Homo sapiens: one gene and its partners. The protein of the gene in region 3 purifies or fractionates together with the protein of the main gene of each other region. This does not show direct contact. Each region holds a gene or a part of one and is shown on either strand. Other genes may lie near its edges.

Evidence for each region.
Region 1: the proteins of PLSCR4 (region 3) and TBC1D15 purify together in Homo sapiens (affinity purification with mass spectrometry; one large-scale study listed by BioGRID and IntAct). This does not show direct contact.
Region 2: the proteins of PLSCR4 (region 3) and FBLN1 purify together in Homo sapiens (affinity purification with mass spectrometry; 3 studies listed by BioGRID and IntAct, with this or other methods). This does not show direct contact.
Region 4: the proteins of PLSCR4 (region 3) and RUVBL1 purify together in Homo sapiens (co-immunoprecipitation; one large-scale study listed by IntAct). This does not show direct contact.
Region 5: the proteins of PLSCR4 (region 3) and LCN1 purify together in Homo sapiens (affinity purification with mass spectrometry; one large-scale study listed by BioGRID and IntAct). This does not show direct contact.
Region 6: the proteins of PLSCR4 (region 3) and PDCD6 purify together in Homo sapiens (pull-down; one study listed by IntAct). This does not show direct contact.
Region 7: the proteins of PLSCR4 (region 3) and TLE1 purify together in Homo sapiens (affinity purification with mass spectrometry, with the first as the bait; one large-scale study listed by BioGRID). This does not show direct contact.

What each region holds. Positions count from the first base shown.
Region 1 is NC_000012.12:71,919,759-71,922,285, reverse strand, and holds part of TBC1D15 (TBC1 domain family member 15), read right to left. Parts: intron 1,574-2,527; exon of another isoform or gene 1,556-1,573; coding exon 1,439-1,555; intron 919-1,438; coding exon 832-918; intron 1-831. UniProt on the Homo sapiens protein: Acts as a GTPase activating protein for RAB7A. Does not act on RAB4, RAB5 or RAB6.
Region 2 is NC_000022.11:45,526,883-45,530,382, reverse strand, and holds part of FBLN1 (fibulin-1 isoform D precursor), read right to left. Parts: intron 2,537-3,500; coding exon 2,374-2,536; intron 1-2,373. UniProt on the Homo sapiens protein: Incorporated into fibronectin-containing matrix fibers. May play a role in cell adhesion and migration along protein fibers within the extracellular matrix (ECM).
Region 3 is NC_000003.12:146,241,106-146,244,605, reverse strand, and holds part of PLSCR4 (phospholipid scramblase 4), read left to right. Parts: intron 1-3,500. UniProt on the Homo sapiens protein: Catalyzes metal ion-induced ATP-independent rapid bidirectional and non-specific movement of phospholipids (lipid scrambling or lipid flip-flop) between the inner and outer leaflet of the plasma membrane and participates in the redistribution of phospholipids between membrane leaflets.
Region 4 is NC_000003.12:128,083,062-128,085,812, forward strand, and holds part of RUVBL1 (ruvB-like 1), read right to left. Parts: intron 1-2,751. UniProt on the Homo sapiens protein: Possesses single-stranded DNA-stimulated ATPase and ATP-dependent DNA helicase (3' to 5') activity; hexamerization is thought to be critical for ATP hydrolysis and adjacent subunits in the ring-like structure contribute to the ATPase activity.
Region 5 is NC_000009.12:135,520,139-135,524,239, forward strand, and holds the start of LCN1 (lipocalin-1 isoform 1 precursor), read left to right. Parts: upstream 1-1,301; 5' UTR 1,302-1,359; coding exon 1,360-1,449; intron 1,450-1,908; coding exon 1,909-2,039; intron 2,040-3,093; coding exon 3,094-3,164; intron 3,165-3,741; coding exon 3,742-3,852; exon of another isoform or gene 3,853-4,101. UniProt on the Homo sapiens protein: Could play a role in taste reception. Could be necessary for the concentration and delivery of sapid molecules in the gustatory system.
Region 6 is NC_000005.10:302,646-306,145, reverse strand, and holds part of PDCD6 (programmed cell death protein 6), read right to left. Parts: intron 1,970-3,500; coding exon 1,925-1,969; intron 1-1,924. UniProt on the Homo sapiens protein: Calcium sensor that plays a key role in processes such as endoplasmic reticulum (ER)-Golgi vesicular transport, endosomal biogenesis or membrane repair.
Region 7 is NC_000009.12:81,583,183-81,585,865, forward strand, and holds the end of TLE1 (transducin-like enhancer protein 1), read right to left. Parts: intron 2,474-2,683; coding exon 2,323-2,473; intron 1,343-2,322; coding exon 1,266-1,342; intron 1,124-1,265; coding exon 1,016-1,123; 3' UTR 501-1,015; downstream 1-500. UniProt on the Homo sapiens protein: Transcriptional corepressor that binds to a number of transcription factors. Inhibits NF-kappa-B-regulated gene expression. Inhibits the transcriptional activation mediated by FOXA2, and by CTNNB1 and TCF family members in Wnt signaling.

The DNA of each region.
Region 1 (2,527 bases), on a different chromosome or scaffold from region 3:
TGGTGAAACCTCGTCTCTACTAAAAATACAAAAATTAGCCAGGCATGGTAGCAGGCACCTGTAATCCTAGCTACTCGGGAAGCTGAGGCAGGAGAATCGACTGAACTCAGGAGGAGAAGGTTGCAGTGAGCCGAGGTCACGCCACTGCATTCCAGCCTGGACAACAGAACAAGACTCTGTCTCAAAAAAAAAGCAAAGTCATGAGGTGGGCACAGTGGTGTGCATGCACTGGTAATCCCAGCTACTCAGGAAACTAAGGCAGGAGGATCACTTGAGCCCAGGAGTTCAAGGCCAGCTTGGGCAACTTAGCAAGGCCCTTTCTCTTAATAGAAAGAAAAAGCTAAAACACATCAAAAGTATACTGCTTTGGTTCAAATTCAGATAATACATCAAATTTGCCTTGTTTTAAAATAATTAATAACTTGACTAATATAAGTGAGTGACACAGGCTAAATAATATTGATTTAATTATTTCTGATTAGCATTCATTTTTGTTTAGAGATTCTGCATATTTAATATGACAGCCTATTCTGCATTCATGAGCTCAACTGGGTAATATATCATTGCTGAAATTCTACAGCCTCTTTGTTATAGAAATATTTTCATTACTTTTACCATTTTGCCTTATTATTAGCTGTTTCCTATCTGCCATAGTCAACTGTTTTCAATTAAGTGCTGTAAATCTAGAACAGCAAACAAAAAGCCAGCCAATACTTTGTGCCTGCCCTCAGCTTACTAAAGTTGCTATTTTATTTCCAAGAAGAAAAATCTTTCTTGATCTCAACCCACCAAAAACAAACAAATCTTGCAATTACTTGAAACACTGTATACCTTGCATTTTACCATCTGTAGAGAAATTGCTTCTGCCTTGCAGAGTATATCTTCCACATCAATTTTCATGGACAATTCATTGATATGCTAAAAAGTATCAACAAAATAAAATGATATCGAAACTGAATACACTATTATATTCTATTATATAAACAATTTATTACCAGTTATATTTCACTGCAGATAAAATCCTTAAAATAAAAACATTCATATACTACAAATACGTAAGAAATTCAATATATCTTTCTTTAGATTATTTCAAGTTTTAAAGCTAAAGACTAGCTAATAAGCTTATGGAACATTAAATCCAGCAGCTATTCCAAGTCTGATATCTCAAAGTTATAATCAAAAGACAATTAATTTTTGAAAAACTAAACTACATAAAAGAGCACTTGTTGAATTTCCTTTTCTTCCTAATTAGCCAGGTAAAAATAACTGGCCAATATGTATTTGAACTGTCATTCTCAGATAGTCATTCCTAGCACTGTTATTGACACAATTTAAGTTACTCAAGAGATTTAATAATGTTCCAAGGAAACGTTCTGTATATCAGGACCACCAAATAGAAAAGCCAGAACACTAAAATCTGAATTAAAGGAATAACTACCTTAAGTATTTCATTGAAGCCATAATGCTTTTCCATTATTTGCTGCTTTTCTGATTCCAGAATAGCACAACAGAGAAGAAGATGGAAATTTGTACATGGTAGTTCGGTCCACATTACCTATAGAAGGCAGAAGAACTATTTTGCAAATTGTATCAATTCTAAAACATTTTCCTCACAGATACAATTCTGAACACTGAATGACTTCTATGCAAAGTAGATGTTGCCTGTTTAGGGTAGCCCAAGGTTTTTCTAGCTAGGAAATGAGGGGAAGGAGAGTCTTACCTTCAGCTACAAAGTAACTATCATCGAGTTTATATGAATATGATATATTCTAAATGTGGCTCTTTAAGGTAACTATAGTAAGTAAATTACTGAGCCTAACCAGTATGATAAATGTTATTAATGCAGGAGCTACAGACACAAGGTTAAGGTGTAAGGGTTAGATGTATTTTCAATATTTTTCTGAAGTATCAGTTTCTCACTTCGATCTGAGAAAAGACTAAAGCTAAGTCCTGGAAATAAAAAAAGGTTCAGTTACACAGTACATGGAATCAGAAACACCCAGAGGTAGCTCTACATTCTAAATACGTAAAACCCTTGTATCACATTTTATCCCTGATTGTGACAATAACTGAATTAACTGCCCCAAATTTATAACCAAACATAGAAAACGCTTGATCAACAGCTCAGCTGTTCCTAAATACAGATAATATCCTCGAATTTAGGGTCTTAATTTCCCCCTGCTTCATGTACCTAATAATATATTTTCCACAAAGATAAAAACACCCACACAAACCATACCATGAGATCATACCCGAAATGTGTTTACTTCTTTCAAAAGGAGTAAATCAAGTTGAATAATTTTCAAACTAAACCCAATTGTTGAAAGTTTAATTACAATGCAATTAACCTCAAAGGTTTCATTAAAAGTTTGAATTTATTTAGTAAACACAGATTGAGGAGTTATTCTAGCTATGTGGTAATAATATTCTTAATTCATCCTTTAAAACCCATTTATGCCTGAGGATGCAATTTTTTGAATTTTTCAATCAGACCTTGGTGATGACCTTGAGCAGTAGGATATAAACA
Region 2 (3,500 bases), on a different chromosome or scaffold from region 3:
CTGGGGCAAGGACTGAAGCAGATAAAAGACGGAGAGATAAAACATCTAACATCTGGAGCTGCAGAAAAGCCCAGAGACTGCTCACGCTGCAGACATAAATCAGTGAAAATCCACCCCCGAGATGCAGGAGAAATCCTCCACCAGCAGGAATGGTTTGGGTTTGTTTAAAGTGAAAATGTCGTCTCTGATTTCAAAAGCCAAGGAATGAGGCAGAATGCGGCCCCAATCCCTCTTGATGACTGTAACATCTGAAATCATCTCAGTGGCATCCATGGGGCCCTGGACTTGAAAAACTAAGAACAATAAGTGAAAGATGAGTCCCGGGTGACCCGGGTCCTCTGTGACCAGGGGCCCTACAGCCTGGACTTGAAAACCTAAGAACAAGAAGTGAAAGGTTCCGTGTCACCCAGGACCCTACAGCCATTACCTTGACTTAGAGACTACAGGTCTGAGGGTTCTTCCCTTTCGCCCCTTCCGGCACCTCCCCACCTCTTTATTTATTTTATTATTTTTTTTGAGACTGAGTCTCGTTCTGTCACCCAGGCTGGAATGCAATGGCGCCATCTCGGCTCACTGCAACCTCCGCCTCCCAGGTTCAAGCGATTCTCCCTGCCTCAGCCTCCCAAGTAGCTGGGATTACAGGCGCCCGCCACCACGCCCAGCTAATTTTTGTATTTTTAGTAGAGACAGGGTTTCCCCATGTTGGCCAGGCTAGTCTCGAACTCCTGACCTCAGGTGATCCGCCTGCCTCGGCCTCCCAAAGTGCTGGGATTACAGGCGTGAGCCACCGTGCCCAGCTCACACCTCTTTTATTTTTTAAGAGAGTGGGGGCAAAGCTCAGAGAGAGGAGGGAACAGGCCGAAAACTACACAGCAAGCTTGGCCCAGGCGGAGTCCTGCCTTCTTCCAGGTTAATTCTGTTACAGCACAAGAAACCGTGGCCTAAGTGTAAGAGGCTACTGGACAGCCACAAAGTCTCCTGAACCCTGTAACTGAACCACACAGAAATGCAGGGCGAGGACACAGAACGGGGGGGCACACAGCTGAGAGCGCTCTTGAAGCTGCTCTTGGGGTCACATGCCCCTTTGCTGAGTAAGTGTCTATGATTTGACAGAGCATAGCCAGCTATTAGCCAGCGATGGCCCCCAGCTGCTCGCCCATACATCGTCAGCTCCAGATGGAGAGGGCACTGGCCAGGAGGTGGAAGGCCAGGCTCTCCCTCCTCCACGTGTCGGCTGTGCGATCTTCAGCATCAGACCCTCACCCAAGAAGTGGGAGCAAGGCCAGCCACCCATGCTGCCCCGGGCAGCTGAAGGGACAAGGGCAGATGGTGAGGGCAGACATTTATGGGGCCAGGTGCTCTACCCAACCCTTGACACCCAATCTCGCACTCCATCCTCCCAGCACCTGATGAAGTAGGACTGCAACTATCCCCACTTCCCAGATGAGGGGACCAAGGTACACATTAGGACCCGGATGGGAGCACAGATTTGTCCGATCCCAGACTCCAAGCACTCAGCGTCACTCCAGGACAGCGGCTTTCAGATAAGGTCACAAACATGAATGGCTCCGACAACCGGAGTTAGTCCGTGCTGAGTTAAGGCAATGGTGACACGGATGCACGTGTTACCTGTAATGGTTCATCGTAAGTGTCAATTGGGCTGGGGTATGGTACTCAAATATTTAGTCAAACACTAGCCTGGATGTTGCTGTGAAGCTATATTTTAGAGATTAATATTGGCCAGGCACGATGGCTCACACCTGTAATCCTAGCACTTTGGGAAGCTGAGGCAGGTGGATTACCTGAGGTCAGGAGTTCCAGATCAGCCTGGCCAACATGGTGAAACCCCATCCCTACTAAAAATACAAAAATTAGCCAGGTGTGGTAGTGTACACCTGTAATCCCAGCTACTCGGGAGGCTGAGGCACAAGAATCACTTGAACCCGGGAGGCGGAGGTTGCCGTGAGCCAAGATCACACCACTGCACTGCACTCCAGCCTGGGTGACAGAGAGAGATTCTGTCTCAAAAAAAAAAAGAGATTAACATGTAAGTCTGTTGATGCTGAGAAAAGCAGATCATCTTCATACCATGGGTGGGCCTCACTCAATCAGCAGAAGGCCTTCAGAGAAAAAAGACTGGCCTCCCCGGGAAAGGCGGCGTTCTGCCAGCACACTGCCTTTGAACTCCAGCTGCAATGCCCCTCCTTCCCTGGGGCTCCAGCCTGAAGGCCTGCCCTGCAGATTTTGGACTTGCCAGCCCCACGATCACATGAGCCAAGTCCTTAAAATCTCTCTCTCTCCACTCTCGCTCTATATACACATCCCGGAGAACCTTAATACACTGCTCATTAGGGAAGGAAGGGGGAAAGTTACCCGTTTCTTGGAGGCCCCCGACATCCAAATCTCCGGTCTCCTGGCTCTTGACACAGCATGCCTGGAAGACCTGTCCACACTGGTAGCCAACCATGAGGCTGTACTCGCAGCTCTGGCCCTGGGCCTGGGCCGCCCTCCCCAGCAGACAGCAATGGCAGCACCTCTGCAAACACAGGTGGAGATCCCAGATGGAGGAGCGGGCAGACAGCCCAGCGGGGTCCACGAGAGGCCTCAGGGGAGGCCTCTCTGAGCCCCCTGTCCACACAACCTGTAGAGTGATGACTCAAGTCTGGCTTAGATACCACTTCTAAATGTCAGCAACAAATAGCAAAGCAAGGCCATCCCCCTACTCCAAATCATCTAGGTCCCAGTTTTGAAAGGAAGCTTAAAGGGCCTGGCATCCACCTCCCCTCCCCACCCCAACATGCAATTGCACCCCTCAACATCCCTGCCCCGCCCAGAGACCACCCGGCTCTGCTCGCACACATCCAGGAAGAGGGAGCTTCTTATAGCACCATGCACCAGCTCCAAAGTTCTGTTCCTTTTGCATGGTCTGAGATTTCTCTACCATGCCCGGAAAAATGACACACATGCATGCTGCCTCTCCGTTTTTGAGTTAGAGGGGTTCTGGCAGCAGGAATTGCACCGTGCATTTGAAAGCACAGGAACTTCAAGACGAGTCATCAAGCAAGGTCAAAGGACAGGGTGGCTGTCTGCCACCTGGGCCCAGGTCCCAATAGTTACTTCCAAGTCCCTGTGGCCTCACACCTGAGTCCCAGAAGCAACATTTGCCCTGACACACGAAAAGCCCTGCTTCAGTCTTTATTAAGTGGTTATCCTAAGAGGAGCACAGAACTTTCTAAACAGTCCCCAGCAGGAGCCAGGAGGTGTAGCTTTGCCTCAGTTATGTGGCACTGATGGGTCTTCCAGGCTGCTTATTCTACGCCCTCCGCTGCCAGAAAGTGTAGGGAGCATCAGTCACCTCATCCATCTTTTGGGGTGTGAGTAATCCTTCCTGGAAACACAAGTCGCTCATCTGCCAGAGAGATCTGTTCCCACTCCTGCTAGAATGTTCTGTGCTTTTTCCACACCTCTCAAGTCTGGGGACATGGGCACAGCTGTGTGCC
Region 3 (3,500 bases):
CATGGTTCATGGGGTCCCAAAACAATTATAATAGTAACATCAAAGATCACTGATCATAGATCACCATAACAGATTGTTATGAAAAAGTCTGAAATATTGTGAGAATTACCAAAATTTGACAAAGAGACAAACTGAGAAGTTGCTGTTCTGCAAAATGGCACTGATAGACTCCTTGATACAAGGATGCCACAAACCCTCAATTTGTTTAAAAAAATGGAGTATCTGTGAATCACAGTATAGCAAAGCACAGTAAAACAAGGCATGCATGTACATAATGAGGTATCTTGAGAATGGGACCCAAGTAAACATGAAATTCATGTTCCATTATGTTTTAAACATATAGCCTGAAGATAATTTTATACAATATTTTTGATAATGTTGTGTATGAAACGTTTACGTACGTTGAACCATCAGAAAGCAAAGGTATCAGTATCTCAATCACCCATGTGGACAATCTGTGGTTATTTGACGTCACCATCATTCCTGACTCTAAATTCATTATGCTACTGATAAGTAATCATTTTCTTACATTACTCACAAATAAGTGCTTAACAGTAAAAAATAGGATGTATCATTAGTACAGTGAAAAGAGAATGCGTTCAGGGTAACTAAGCAGCACAGTAGTATCTCCAGAATGCCTGTGTCGGAAAGCCACCAATAAGCAATGGCAGGCTTTCATTCTTTACCTACAATGCTGTATTTTGATTACAAGGTTATCATTCACTGAATTTTATTATTTTAAGTGAGAAGAAATATCAGAAGTAGCCAAGTGACCAGCAAGTGTTTTCTCTACAAATGAGGAAGCATTCTGATGGATGACTTTTCAGAATGTTTCCTCTGGAGTCCGCTGTCTCATTAACAATGGTTTTTGTCTTAGAAGTCTCTGTTGATTTTACAGACTGACACAATTTCTTATTCTGTGATGAATGAATGCTCTTAGAGTCCTTCAGTAAACCCATCACATATTTTCACCATGTCATCTATAGGCACTTTGCAGTTTTAACAGTGTCCTCATCATCTTTCACTTGTGACATCATGTTGGTGCTGAAAGTTTTGGATTTTTGAGCATTTCAGATTTTGGACTTTTGGATTAGGGTTGCTTAGTCTATACAGCATTTTATGTGCCCGAACTCTGCATGAATATTATAATCTTTTCTTAAAGTTAGAGATTGGTTCATCCTTTTTGTTCATTTCTTTGTTTTCAAGAATAAATGACAACACAGTTTTTGTTTTGCTTTCTATTTTTTTGTTTTTCAAGAGTTTTGGAGCATAGTCAGGATCATGATGATAAGAAAGAGATGTATATATGTAACAAACCTGCATGTTGTGCACATGTACCCTAAAACTTAAAGTATAATAAAAAAAAAGATGTATACAGTTGGTAGAGCATATTGTTAGCAGGAGTTTGAGAAGAGGGGTTTCAGTCAATTGAGAGATCCCCATGGAAGAAGCAGGATGAAATACAGATAACAGAACTAATTCTTACAAATTTTTTTTCTGAAAATGGTCCAAGTGTCAATTAGGAACTTTCCAGGTTTGATTTGAAACCCCCACCACAGAATTTGTTTTTCCTCCCTGAGAGATTGATGGGTTACTGTTTTGGGATTAAAGCCTTTGGGGGCTTTCTCTGGTGGAGAAATAGTTCAGACAAAAGGTAGTGGATCCATTAGATGGCTAATATAAAAGTGGACAATGTATTTTCCAGTTGCATGAGTGTTTACCATAAAGGCAGACATCTTGGGGCATAGGGTTCTTTATTTTGGGATCCTCTTGGGCCCTGTAGCCTTTACAACTGTAAAGACATAAACCTGTTTGCCTTTCGTAAGGAATTTTCCCACTGTAGCCATTCTAAGTTACTTTTGCTAAGGTTCTCCCATTCGTCTCGAAAAGCACAGGTTCTGGGTCTCTGGTTTTTATACATGAAGTTGGCTAGAATTCCAGAGGGCGAAGCTCTAGCAACCTTTGACCAGATAAACCCATGATTCTATGTCTTTTATTAACCTTTCCTACCTACTAACTGAGTTGAGTTTATGTCTGACCCAGTCAAATACCTGAGGCCTCCCTACTGGGCCCAGTCCTGTTGTTGGCATGACTTTGAAACCCAGTGTAGATCAAAAATGCTCAAACTCAGCTCAAATCAGAAGTTCATGAAGCTTAGATTCAAAAATCTCACCCATGACCCCAGTTGCTGCGAAAGAGCAGTGAGTACACTGGGCATGCTGGGTACCTTAACTTGGTCACTCAGTGCTCCTGGGATCACTGGAAGTTTGCTTCAAGATCTGACTTCTCATGTGAAACTCTTAAAAGAAAAACTTTAGGCAAATTCAGCAGAGTTTATCTGAGCGAAAAACGATTCATGAATCAGGCAGCCCTCAGAACCAGAAGAGTTTCAGAGAGCTCCACCGAGCAACATGGGCAGGCAGTATTCATAAACAGAGGAAAGAAGTGACGTACATAAATCAGTTGATTGGATCCAGCCTGGTATTTGCTTTATTTGGTCATGGTGTGATGAGGCATTTGCCTTCAACGGACATGGTCTGATCAGTTGACAGCCCGTGATTGGCTGAAGCTCCACTACCATCATTGGCTGAGACTCAGCTACTTGTTACAAGAATACAACCTCAAATCAAGTTGCAGTCTGCTATTTACAGAGGCAGCTTTAGGCCCAATTTAATTTATCAGGTTATGATTTAGATTACGTAGAAATGTGTTGTTTTATTTTTATGTGGTTAGAGAATTTCCTGTTATCTTGCGGTTAGTAATTCCTAGCTCATTACATTATGGTCGGAGAACAAGCTGTATTATTTTAATTTTTTTGTAATATTTTAAGATTTGTTTTATGAGCCAGAATGTGGTCTGTCTGGGTGAATGTTCCGTACGTTGAAAATAATGGTTATTCTAATGCTGTTGGGTGGGTGTCCTACAAATGTCAGTGTTGGTTGATGATGCTGTCTAGTTGTGCCAATATCATTGCTGATTTTTCCTCTGCTTGTTCTTGTAGATTACTAAGAATGGAGTGTAAAAGTCCTCAACTGTAACTGTGGATTTCTCTTTATTTTTTTCAATTTTGCCAGTTTTTCCTTCATGTATTTTGAAGCTCCATTGTTAGGATCAGTCATGCTTAGGATTGCTGTATCTTGTTAAGAAATTGTCTCTTACTTTTAAGTGATAGCCCTTCTTATCTCTGGTAATTTTCTTTGCTCTGAAATCTACTTGTGAGATATTAGTATAACCACTCCAGCTTTCTTTTTCTCTGTAATGACTTTGTTGAGACATAATTCACATACCATAAAATTCACCCATTCAAAGTGTACAGTTGAGTGATTTTTAGTATATTCAGAGTTGTGAAGCTATCACCACAATCTAATGTTAGAATAATTTCATAATTCCAAAAAGAAACCCATGCCCAATAACAGTCATTTCCCATCTTCTTGAAGCCACAAATCTACTTTATGCCTTTATAAACTTGCCTATTCTGGATAGTTCACATCAGTAGAATC
Region 4 (2,751 bases), about 18 Mb from region 3:
TTAAAGATTTACCAGGCCTCATAACATCACCGGGAGATATCTAATCTATCAAGAAGAGGCTGACGCTTGTTGCAGTTTGAAGATCTTGGTAGAGTTGGAGGGGAGGCAGGCTGGCGGCGGGGATGCTGTAACACGGTGGACCAGGATCCTGCAGGCGTACCAGCACTGAGTGATAAGGGGCAGCCAGGATAATGATGTTGTGTGTTGTGGAGCTGAGATAACTGCAGGACTTCGAGCCGCATATAATACAGGAATTTTTCACTTTGGCAGCTTCGTAAACAAGATATCAAGAAGCCCTTGTTGAAATTAAAGCCATAAAAGCACACCCAGTGTAGAGGCACAGGAGCTGGGAAAGACTGAGTCCCAGCTTCAGCCTTCCAGGAGGGAGGAGAGCCAGAGGTTTACTGAGGTGGCCACATCAAGCCTCGCCTGTCAGCTCTCCAGGCTGGGACCCTGCGGGCAGGAGCTGCAGGGGGAGCCCAGTCTCTGATGATCGCGGTTGGGCTTGGGGGACAGCACATTGGCTGCCCACAGATGGGAAAGGCCTTGGAAAGCCCCAGCAGGACAGAGCGGCTGCGATGAGCCAGGTGAGGGTGAAATGCTTGGCCAGCAAACACCCTGGGGAGGCAGCCCCTCCACCCGCGGCCACCACTGCTGCAAGGTGTTGTCTGCAGTCTTCCCTTTTCTCAAGACAGGCTCAGAACTCAGATCCTTGTACGAAACGTCCTGATTTTGGCAGGACACAATGGCTCACGCCTGTAATCCCAGCACTTTGGGAGGCGGAGGCAGGTGGATCACCTGAGGTCTGGAGTTTAAGACCAGCCTGACCAACATGGCGAAACCCCATCTCTACTAAAAAGACAAAAATTAGGTGGGTGTGGTGGCACATGCCTGTAATCCCAGCTACTCAGGAGGCTGAGGCAGGAGAATTGCTTGAACCCGGGAGGCGGAGGTTGCAGTGAGCTGAGATTGGGCCGTTGCACTCCAGCCTGGGCAACAAGAGAGAAACTCCATCTCAAAAAAAGAAAGAAAGAAAGAAATGTCCTGATGTCTAGATGTCAGCAACTTGTTCAAACATTTCACAAACACTGCATAGGCCACATGAAACGTATCTGCTGGGCTCATGGGTGAACTGCCAGGGTGTGAGCTCCACTGAAACAATCTTAGCTTATGCAGGAGGGGCTTCACTGTCTGAAATCCAAAGCTAAATGCAGCTGGGCAAAAAGGGGCCCTCTGAAGTTACTGGATGGTACAAGGACAACCAAGAAAAGGAGCTGGGAGGGACTCACAACAGAACTCCCCCCTGAACACAGCTTCAAGGTAAAAACGGCTTCTCACTCACAGCTGGGACTGAGGAAACCACCAGGTCTTGCCAAGAAAAATGTCCCCAGATGACCTTCTGAAACTCCAGGGAGATGTAAATATTGAATCCTGGAGCCTGGTCATAGGAGACAGCTTAAGCTAAGTGCCTCGCCTTCAGTGAGATGCACTGAATCTGTGGCTCAGCTTCCAGAATGTCAGGGACACTCTGCTCTCTCTCTCTCACTAGAGAGAGCAGCAGGTCAGAGCAATCGTGAAAGCGTCTGTCTCAGGCTGCTCGAAAATGGACAGTTCATAAATGAGATCTTTAATCATTTAATAACCTGCAGGGATAGTTTATGAGGGTGTCGGCTTGGATTGCAGAGTACACAAGTTACATTGAGTTTGTTTAAAAACCTAGCCCCAGGCTCCAGTAAAAATGCTGAGGTTATCGCCTGGGCCAGCGGGAACAAAGCCACGAGTCCTGAGAGAAAGCCTGAGGAGAGGCCCTCCTGACAGAGCCAAGACAGCCCCAGCCCAGAGTTGGCCTGGCAAGTCACTGTCCTAGAAGCACAGTACAGAACATTCCAGACTGTTTGGGCCAGGAGCTCTGGGTTCGAATGGCGGCAGCAAGGGTGAACTAGCTCTGAGTGGCAGTCCTGGCTCTGCTGCTTACTCTCCACATAGCCACAGGACCCTCGTTCTTGGAGCCTCCAACACTGGCTATTGCGAAGCTGTTGTATGTTGTACGTAGAGGACCCTAGAGGGTACCTATGAAGCACACAAAGCTATGAATACAGTAATAACAACAGCAATGGGAAGGATGGGAGGGCCCGTTATTGCCAATACCTCACAAATCCTAATGACAATCTTGCAAAGGAGGGAGGAGATGTTCCATTTAACAGAGAAGGTGAAGGCTCGGTGAGATGCACCAAATTGCTCAAGTCATTCAGTAGGCAAATGGTGTCTCTGGCCCTGAACACATCTGTGCTGGGCTGCCTTTTTTGGCAGGACACATGGGGTTTTGGACCCAACAGTAAGGTGCTATGTCCCGCAGTAAGAATGGGCCAGTTTTCCAAGAATTGCCTGGGACTGTTTCTGCTTCTGCCTCCGTTCAGTGAATGCCTTGGCTTCAACCTGGCAGTCACCCTTGCAAGTCACCTGGCAAGACACCCTTACGTGGCGATGAGGCCCCCGGCCATTGACACCATCTCCTAGGTAACATATACAATTGCTACTATGAACCATAACTGCTTCAGTAATTTGCCAATGCTGGTTACAAAGGGAGATCTGTGACTCTCCTGATGCATCCCCACAGCACTCCTGCATGCGGTAAGAGATGCTGGCAGGCCCAGGCTGGGCCTCCAGCCACAGGAGAGCAGCAGAAGTGCCAGGAAAGGCCCAGGAGAGGCCCTGACTGCTCCAAAGGAAAGGTCCTGCTCACAAACTGCC
Region 5 (4,101 bases), on a different chromosome or scaffold from region 3:
TAATTATTTCTATTTCGTCTCTCCTTATTTCTTATATTCTGGCCAGTTCTAATTTTATACTTTATATATTTTTAAATCACTAGGCATCTTGATCATACTCCTGCAGTTTTAAAGTGTGTGTCAGACTTTCCTTGGCTGGTGTAAGTTCCTGTACCAATTGCTCATTTTTAGCCTGCCTTTCTTAGTGTGGTGTTTCCTTGGGTAATTTGGAACCTGGCCTTTCTAGCTTATTTCAAGGTGAGGATATTGTGTCTCTGCATTTCTGCCTTTCTCTGCCATCTTGTTGTCACTGTCCTCTGTCTAGCAGTGTTTTGTAGCCTCTGCTCCCATCCCGGGTCCCAGGCTTCTGCTCTGCAGTGATGCAGAGCATGTCACAGATAAAGTCATCCTTTCCAAGGACGGCTTGTCTCAGCTTCTGCCCTTGAGGCTGTGTTGATGTCCTCTTGCCTTCCTATGCCCACAGTGCTCCACTAAGTTATACGAAGTTACAGCCCTGGGATGTGTCAAGGAGGGTTTCTCAGCCTTCTTTCTGGAGTCAGGGAAGCCCCTCCCATCACTCCCAGGAGCCGGACCTAGGCCCTCTCTGCCTGCCTTGGGACTTGGAGCTGACAGGCCCCTGCCTCTGCCCCATCACCAGCCTGTGCTTCTCCTCCATTCCTTGTTTTATGTGAGTGTGTGTGCGTTTGTGCATGTATATATGTACACACATGCATACACACACACACACCTGTCTTGGTCTTCTGTCTGTCTGACCTATTGCTGCTCTGTGTGTGGAGCAGAGAGGGTCGTTACTGCACACCTTGCTCAGGACAGTGGACACCGTCTTTAAATGCACACGGGATCGTGTTCACACAGGAGGGTCCCTTTTTTTCCATGATGAATCTGAGGCCAAGTAACCTGCCCAGAGATGCAGGAAGCTCAGCTGAGCCCCAAGCCCACGGCCCTCGGACTCCAACCCCAAACCCCCTTGACAGTGTGCACGTCAGCAAGTGTGGGATGGCTGGGGGGCATCTGTTACGGCTGCACACGTCCCCAGGAGGCCTGCACACCCTTCACTCCCTTCAGTTTCCCTTCAGGTGAAATCTGCAAATCTGCTCCTCTGGACCTGGTCCTGTCCAAGTGATCCTCTGGGATTAACAAGCTGTTATTCACCAGCCTCCAACAATAATGGCAGGTTATCTGCTCCATTGCAGAACTGGCAGTGGTTTACATCCAGGAAGGGATTGGTCAGTCTCCTGTGCCAGGTCCCTGGGGGACCCTGAGCCCAGCGGTATAAAGGGCGGCTGTGGGAGGACTGGTACAGCCTCTCCCAGCCCCAGCAAGCGACCTGTCAGGCGGCCGTGGACTCAGACTCCGGAGATGAAGCCCCTGCTCCTGGCCGTCAGCCTTGGCCTCATTGCTGCCCTGCAGGCCCACCACCTCCTGGCCTCAGACGAGGAGATTCAGGATGTGAGGCCCGGATGGGAAGGCTGGGCTGGAGGGGGCAAGGGGCGAGGCTGAGACTGGATGGAGACCCCATGCCTCCTCCATCCAAGGAGACCCTCGTTTTTGGGTTGGGCATTCAAGCCCTGCCCTGAGGGAATGGTGGGATGGGGCAGCAGGGGTCTGGGCTGGCAGGGTAGGTGGCGCAGGGGTGCAGAGTGGGCAGGGCTGGGAGGGTGGGGGTCTGGCTGACTTCACTTCTTCCCTGGGGATGAGGGCTCCTGTGGTCCTGGCTGGCTTGTGGGGGCTGGAGCCACCTTCAAGTGGGCCTGGCGAGGGTGCTGGGTGTTTTCTGGGTGGGTTAGATTGGGGAACGTTCCCCGTTTCCAGCCCTCGGGGTGCGGTAGAGTCTAGGGGCTGCAGGCCAGGGAAGGGGGAGGCTCTGGAGCAGTCGGCCTGAGCCTGATAGAGAGGGGCCTTCTCCAGGTGTCAGGGACGTGGTATCTGAAGGCCATGACGGTGGACAGGGAGTTCCCTGAGATGAATCTGGAATCGGTGACACCCATGACCCTCACGACCCTGGAAGGGGGCAACCTGGAAGCCAAGGTCACCATGCTGTGAGTGTCTGCCAGCCGGCCGGGCAGCCTGCAACCTGGTCTAGGGCCTTCCCTTTCCCCACCCAGGAGAGCTCTGGTGCTGGGGAGGTGGGCAGACCTGCTGGGAGGCCTCTCTCGGCCCCTCCTGCAATGCTTGAGGGCAAACTGTGCCACTGAGGTGCCTCGGCTGGAGGGGCCCTGAGGGGGCAGAGGCCCCGGATCAGACCCTGTGGGCTACCAGTGGCAGCCCTGGGTACCGCCCACTTCCTCCTCCGACTAGGGAATGTCTGGTGACGTGCAGGCCCCTTTGGGAAAAGGTGTTTACCCCCGACCAGAGTCAGAGCCAGTCCTGGCAGTAAATTTCTGCTTTGGAGAAGTGCAGGGATGGGGCTTGCAGAATGACCAAGAGGGGGCATAGGAGAAGACACCATGGAGAAGACCCCCTTGAAATCCCTGTGTAGCGCTCACCTGTGCGGCTCTCACCTGGGCTGCTTCCACCCGCGTGGCTCACATCTGTGACTTCCCACCTGTGTGATTTCACCCGCATGGCTCCCTCCTGAGTGGCATGCAGTGCCTGTGCTCCGGTCCTGGGGGCTGAATCTCAGGAAGTCACTGACCCTGGCAATGACCCCGATTTTTTTTTCCCCCAAAGCCCCTCACTGAACCTTTCCCTCTCTGGGCCAGATGATGATGGATATGGGGCTTGTGCCTGAATGTCTCTAAAAGGAAGAATGCAGCTGGCGGGATGAGGCTCAGGCCCACGCCACAGACGCTGCCTGCAAACCAGGCAGCCTGGGTGCCTCTGGCAGGAAATGTGTTGGGGGCGGGGGGTTTGGGAAGGCAGCCACCAGGAGGAGCGGTGCAGAGCTCCTGGCCATCTCGGGAGACCCCGGGAACTGCCGCATGGGACCCGGAGGGGCCGCTGGTGCCTGGGTCTGAGATGCAGAGAAGCACCCTCCTCCATGGGCCTGTGGCAGACTCGGGGCCACATTTGCAGGGCATTGCAGCATGGTTGCTCCAGGGCCGGGGGAGGCACAGGCCAGGGCCGCTTTGCCAGGGGGCTTCTGTTTTCCAGGATAAGTGGCCGGTGCCAGGAGGTGAAGGCCGTCCTGGAGAAAACTGACGAGCCGGGAAAATACACGGCCGGTGAGTCCCGGGGCCTGAGCCAGAGCCTGAGCTTGAACACACGCTGGATGTGCGGGGGCAGCCAGTGCCTTTTTGGGGTGGCCTTTTGGCCTGGGAAGCCTTTTGCTGCCTTCTGACTCCACTAAAAGCCCACTCTCTTCTCCCACTGGTCAATTTGCATTAGAGACTTGAACACCTGACCCCAAACACCAGGTGTGGCAGGTTTGTCCCGGGGCGGACCCTCTGGGCTTGCCCTGTAGCCCTGGCTGTGGCTCTGGCAGGGCCAGGAGCAGAGTCGTATTTGGCTGCGGGGGGCTGTACCCCAACTCCCACCTCCGCAGACCTCATACCCGGAGGAACCCCCCGTGACTCACTGGTTTGGGATGTGGCCGCCTCTTGGGTACATCAGGTTCCTGGGAAGTGGGGGTCCCATGGCCTGGGGCTCAGGCCTGGTGGGGAACCTGGGTCAGGGAGCTCTGGGAGGCTGGGAGGGTGCAGGAGCTGCGGGGCTTGCTGGGCCTGGCAACGCACGCTGTCCCGGGATCCTCTCTGAAGTCCCTGGTGGCTAATTCAGGAATGTGCTGCTGTCTTTCTGCAGACGGGGGCAAGCACGTGGCATACATCATCAGGTCGCACGTGAAGGACCACTACATCTTTTACTGTGAGGGCGAGCTGCACGGGAAGCCGGTCCGAGGGGTGAAGCTCGTGGGTGGGTCCCGCACCCTCACCCTGCAACCCATGCCTCCACCTGCCCTCCCTCCTCCCTCGGCCTCCTGCACCCTCTTCCCCATGGGAGAAGCCACTGGGACCCAGGAACCCACTGCAGTTTTCTTAGGATGAGTTTTCCTGATAAAGGCCTCAATTCCCACCCCTGGAGTTCAGGATTTGGGATGCCCCGGCCTCGGTATCTGCAGCAGAGGCAGGAAGGAGCCACGGCTGCAGGCACAGGGGTTCAAAG
Region 6 (3,500 bases), on a different chromosome or scaffold from region 3:
GGAGTCTTGGAACAGCCCTGTCAGGAAAACCTGCTTTAATTAGAAACAGACCCTCGCCTATGTCCTATTTGCTTTCAGTCTAACTCCAGGTCCAAATACAAAAGAATCTATAACTACCTTTATATGTAGTTGCAATATGGCTAAAAAACATAGAAAAATTCAGTGTGAATTACTGCTGCAGAGAAAATGATAAATCACGTGGTCTCTTTTCAAGAACAGAGGTTAATACAGGACTGCAATAAGACTACTCCTGGTTTGATCAGAAATATGTTACAATTAAATGAAAATCCACAGGATGAAAAATCATGTGAGAAACAGCATCGATGTTTCTTCCCAACAGTCCACAACCCTGTGTGCAACCAGTGGCTGTTTTTCACACAACCGTTCCACGACGTGCACCGTTCCACGACGTGTGTGGTGTGTGGACCAGGGGCTGTTTTTCATACGACCATTCCACGATGTGTGCAGTGTGTGTGGACGATGCTGTTGCGTGCAGGACCCACTGCGCACCACACACCAGCAGGGAAGGATGCTGGGTGAGCTGCACCCCAGGGTAAGGGCTCCGCAGAGGAGTGGCTCCCAGGCCATTCCTCTCCGGTGGGGAGGTAGCTCCCCATGTATCAACACCTTTTCTAGCACTAAAGGCTGAGCCCTGCCACTACTACACTTCCAAGTTTTCTCTCCCTCCATCAGTGTGACGTAGCAACATATGCACGACCAGCAGGGCACAGTCATCTGGAAAAGCCCCCAGCTACACCCACACTAGGACTCAGACACCTCACCACACACAGGCTCCGCAAGGAACTCAGGGAATCCTCACAAGACTAAAACACGTGCATGGATGGGAGGCGAGGGAATGAGCCCCAGGCCGCTCTGGGAAACCTCGAGACACAATGCCATGGTCCCTGTGAGGCAGAACTGAACCTGGGATTCCATATTAAAGAGGTCTGAAGGGGGCTGCACCTCCCAGCAAAGGGAACCTTCCAGAAATCAAGTCGGGTAGGGATGGAAACATGACTCTCCTGAACACCTGCCTCCCAGGCCTGCCTGCCCCTGGAGCTGCAGCTCCCACCTGGCTACGGGGGATGGAGACACAGCACGACTCTCCTGAACACCTGCCTGCGCCTGGAGCCTCAGCTCACACCCCGGCTACCGTCTGGGCATGGGGGTGCACACCTGTAATCCCCACTTTTTGGGAGGCTGAGGCAGGAGGATTGCGTGAGCCCAGGAATTCCAGACCAGGCCTGGGCAGCACAGGGACACCCTGTCTCTTAAAAGAAACAAACAAAAACCCAGCTGCCTATACAGCTGGGGAGACCCTGGACCCAAAGAAATGATGCAGACCCTCACATTAAGGCTACACATGAACCCACAAAACAAACAAAAATTACAGAAGCATCAAGGAAGTTGGTCACTCTGTGTGGGCTTGAGCAGGAAAAATATCTGGCTGTAGACCACCCTCCCAAGGACTTCAAACACAGTCAAGGAGCTCCATGTCACAAATATCTAGCGCTTTTCAAAAAAGCATGTTCTTAAAACTGAAGACTATCATATGAAATATTTGAATAAAGAATGGAATCACAAAAATAAATAAGCAATGTCTATCAAAAACACCCAGATAAGATGTGAAAGTAACTAATAATTTAGAAATTTTAAATATATGTCATCTTTAGAATTAGAAACTGAAAGGACAGGTTACACCGTACATTAAAAATAAACAGAATCAAGAATAGAGCAAACATACACGGAGAGATGTGAAAAGGTACAGAGACGGAGGGAGAGGGATGAAAGGGCCGACGCTCATCTAAGTGGAATTCCAGAAGGGAGCAAAGTGATACGGACCCACAGACAAAGGAAACACAAGCGGGTACCCAAGCGGGTCGGATACAAAGCAGCCCAGGTTGGTCCGTCTGCCGATACTTACATATGATCGACCTGACAGTCACTGGATTAAAGGGAGTCCACGTGCCTGAAAACAAACAACAACAGGAGTTAAAGTAAAAGGAAAATCTTTCTGGGACACTGAGTTTGTGATCTATACCTGGAGGCACCAGGAAAAGCAGTGGGGGCTCTAAGGTAGTGGTTTTCTAGACACTCCAGGTGACGTGTCGGCTGCCATGACTCCTGGGAGGGGGCCAAAGCACTGCCTGGTGGGTTCACACCCTGCTGTGTGTGGGAGTCCTTCGTGGCCTCCCAGACCTCCAAGGCCGTCCACAGTCATCGCGGCTGGACATGCACTCTTATTTAACAGATAACCAAGAAATGGTTCTGTATCATTTTACACACAGAATTTTTCAAGGATGCAGTCACCAGCTAAGTTGAGAAGTTCGCACTTAGTTTTGTTAGAGGACTTCACGAATTCCCATTTCAGAAAATCCATCATCAAGGCCACCACTGCCTGCAGACACCTGAACATAGCTTGGTCGCTGTGGCATTCACACTAATTCTACTGAAAGGTGCAAGTACCAGACCCCTTCCTTCCGTTCTCCCTCAGTAATCATCCTAAAGCACGGTGAAGACATCCATCACACCACACTTCAAACATTCCTGACAAATTACGGTCTGGGCTTTATATGATTTTCCTTGAAACTGAATAGGAAAGCTGTACTATCCTCAGACTCATCGTTGAATCTGATACCCTTGAGCGCTCACAACCATTTATCAACTCTGAGAATGAAGATTCACTGATGACCTTCGCACACAAGAACCTATCTTCAGAGTGATTTGTACCTTCAGTAATTTCCATACTCACTAAAAATGAACTAAAAAAATATTTTTAAGGTCAGGAGAGACCAGTGGCTCTCCTCATACCCCGTCTGTGTTAGACACACAGTTTTTTTTTTTTTTTATGCACAAAAATGCCACAGTCCTGGGCAGTACACAGAGACAGCCCCCTGATCTCAGAGAACAATGTCAGGCTCCTGGTGGAGCACGGGCGGTGGGGTCTGCTGGCATGGTCCCTTAGGCCTCTACGTGCCACCACTCTGGGCTCATGGGGCTCCTCCTAGTGCCATGCCCGCTCTCACCTGAAGTGCGTCCCCTCCTAAGACACACACACCCTCCCTCCAGCTCCTTCCTTTCCTTCCTCAGGGAGACTTCCACGGGGGTACCACATTCTCCCAGCCCAGAAGTTAAATCCATTTGCTCCGCCTGAGCACCTCCCAACTTCCCCTTGGGAAGATCCCGCCCTCCAGCAGTTATGCAGGGAAGCTGTGCTCTTCCCACAAAGGCAGGTGCACCTGAACCTGAGGCATACACACAGAGCAGCACTCAATGATCCGCCCTCCAGCAGTTATGCAGGGAAGCTGTGCTCTCCCCACAAAGGCAGGTGCACCTGAACCTGTGGCCCACACACACAGCACTCGATGACCCACCCTCCAGCAGTTATGCAGGGAAGCTGTGCTCTCCCCACAAAGGCAGGTGCACCTGAACCCGTGGCCCACACACACAGCAGCACTCGATGACCCACCCTCCAGCAGTTATGCGGGGAAGCTGTGCTC
Region 7 (2,683 bases), on a different chromosome or scaffold from region 3:
CCTGGGTAACAAACAATGTGAACTCAAATCTTTAAACAAAAAAAAAAAAAAAAAAAAAGGAGAGAGAGAGAGAGAACGAAAGAAAGAGAGAAAGGGAAAGAGAAAGGGAAAAGGAAGAGGAGATTGGGCCTTCCTAGAAAAAGGAATATTTTGCCTTCCAATGAATCACCAGAAAAAAGTAGAGCTTTAATCTTTGACCTTGAATCACAATAGTATCATAACAAAAGAACAAATCTTGATGAAGTAATTTTACTTTCCTAAAGAAAACTGTCATTAGTAAACCTTCAATTACTCACAATTCCTAGTCTTGAGCTCCCAGTAACTCAAGCTTGTGAAGGATTAGGTTCTAATGCAATGGGAGCCTACCACCAAATATATTTATAAAATAAGCAGTGCAATTCAAAACTTCCTCTACAAATGTATAATCTTTGCTTATAAAACCCACATTGATGATCCCAAAGCTTTAATAAAAAACAATAAAGAAAGAAAAGGAAAACCACTTATTGGTACTAAAGCCTTTACTGTAATAAACCAAATATATTTACAATTTATACAAATGTTTAACCTTCAACAAAAATACAAAAAAACATTTCACAAGATGCAAAACCAGGAAACAAGTTCATTGGAGACACCACTGCTCTACAAAGGACGGAAAGTGAGGTGAACTGCAAGGAACAGAAAGGTAATCTCACACTTGGGCAAGGCGTGATCCCCAGATCACCCAGAAAGAAAGAATGGGCTGTCATGTGAGTCGGCAGATTCCGTTCCTCAATCCTACAACCCATGGCCCCTCTGTCCGCTTGGCCTTGGTGCTCCATTTGGTCTATGTAGACAGGTGACTTTCTGCTGATGGACTTGTCGCCTCCTCTTTGTAGACTCAAAGTAGTTTTCTGTCAAGGTTTGGAAACAGGTGTTTGTAATTTTTTTTCTCTTTTAAAGTTACAACTTTTCTATTTCTATAAATTCGAAACATTTTGGCCCAATTCAACTATAAACGTTAAACCACATAATGTTTTCAGTAGATGACTTCATAGACTGTAGCCTTCTTGTCCCCCGAGCCAGTGACTATGTACTTATCATCCACAGAGATGTCACAGCTAAGCACTGACGAGGACTCTTTGGACTGGAAGAGAAAACAATGGACATGTGTTTAATGTGGAACAACGGTACTCAGAGGCCCTGCTCCCTCGGAGGCACCTTCACTCCTGGCTTCAGAGGCGACACTGTGGTCAAACTGTGGATCTAGGTGAGGAGTACTTACTCACCTGGAATATGCTGGCTCCATAGGGGGTCCGCCAAGCATTGAGGAGGTTATCTTTTCCAGTACTCACAAACCATTTACCTAGAATTAGCAAAGGAATATCTAGTTTTCACAAGGTTAAAATTCCTACTATACAATTAGCAACTTGGACTTAATCAAACTAAGAACATTTTTAATATATGAACTATCATGCCCTAAGGACTGGTCCATGATATGAACAGAGGTTTTAATCTGGGCTCCTCAGTGATTTATCAGTGATCTTGGGTATAATCTAAGAGGTATCAGCCTCCTTAGTCACTGGATACAGGACTAGTAGCATCATATCCAACACACGGTAACCCTCAAATATAGAAATCAATGAAGAATGTGTTCTATTTTAGTCAGTCTCCTCATGATAAAATGGGATTAAAGATTCCCATCTTTAATGGGAATTAAAGGATTAAACATCCAACTTAAGTAAAATGCCAGTCACATCATATAGCATGAAGAAAAATGCTCAATAAGTGATAGGCACTCATCCACCCATCCATCCATCCATCCATCCATCCATCCATCCATCTATGCATACTGTGAACAGATATCTGCCCATCTGCAGCACACAAGAAGGGTCACCACATGAACTTCTTCCCTCTTCATCCTCACTGTAGAGTAGAGTGTAACTAAGTGTCTGCGTATACCTAAATATCGACTTCTCTAACCCTGGATTCCTCATCATGGCCAGCTCATAATGACTTCCACTGCCCCTGCTCCATTCTTCAATAAATTCCCGCCCACCCCTCTTCAGAGTAGAAACTCATTGTCGTCTCCCAACCCCTCCAAAACAAACTTGTGTCCAAACCGTGTATTAGGCAATCACATTGCCTGCTGACTTTTCTCAAATTAGCAAAACAGACTGAAACAGACATTGCTGTGCTCTGAAGGGCATATTAAAACAATAGAATTATTGCATCCAGCTGCTCGGAGAACATTTTTTCCAGATTATGATCTCTACCATATTTTTTTAAGAAGCATTTTCCATTTGGGCCATCAACGGCCTCCAGTTTCCTTTCGGCTGAACTCACCACAGTAAGCAAATTTCAGGGACAGCACGCAGCTCTCATGCAGGTGCAGCTGGTACTTGTCAGGCTTGTTCACGTGCAGCACCTCCACATTGCTGCTCTCCATGCCCACTGCCAGCCACTCCCCGGTGGGGCAGTACCCCAGGGAGAAGATCTACAAGGAGCAAGACAGGCTCACTCATTATTCCGCCTGATACACTTAGGAAGGGAAGACGCAATGTGAAAAGTGGGGAAATAGCAAGAATGGGGGGAAGTAATCAGCCAAGTCCAGACTGTGGGGAGGTCCACAGGGCAAGTGATCTAACGCAGATGAACCAAGTGTCAAAACCTTTAGGAAACTGGAAACATTTGAACCCCTCTGTCT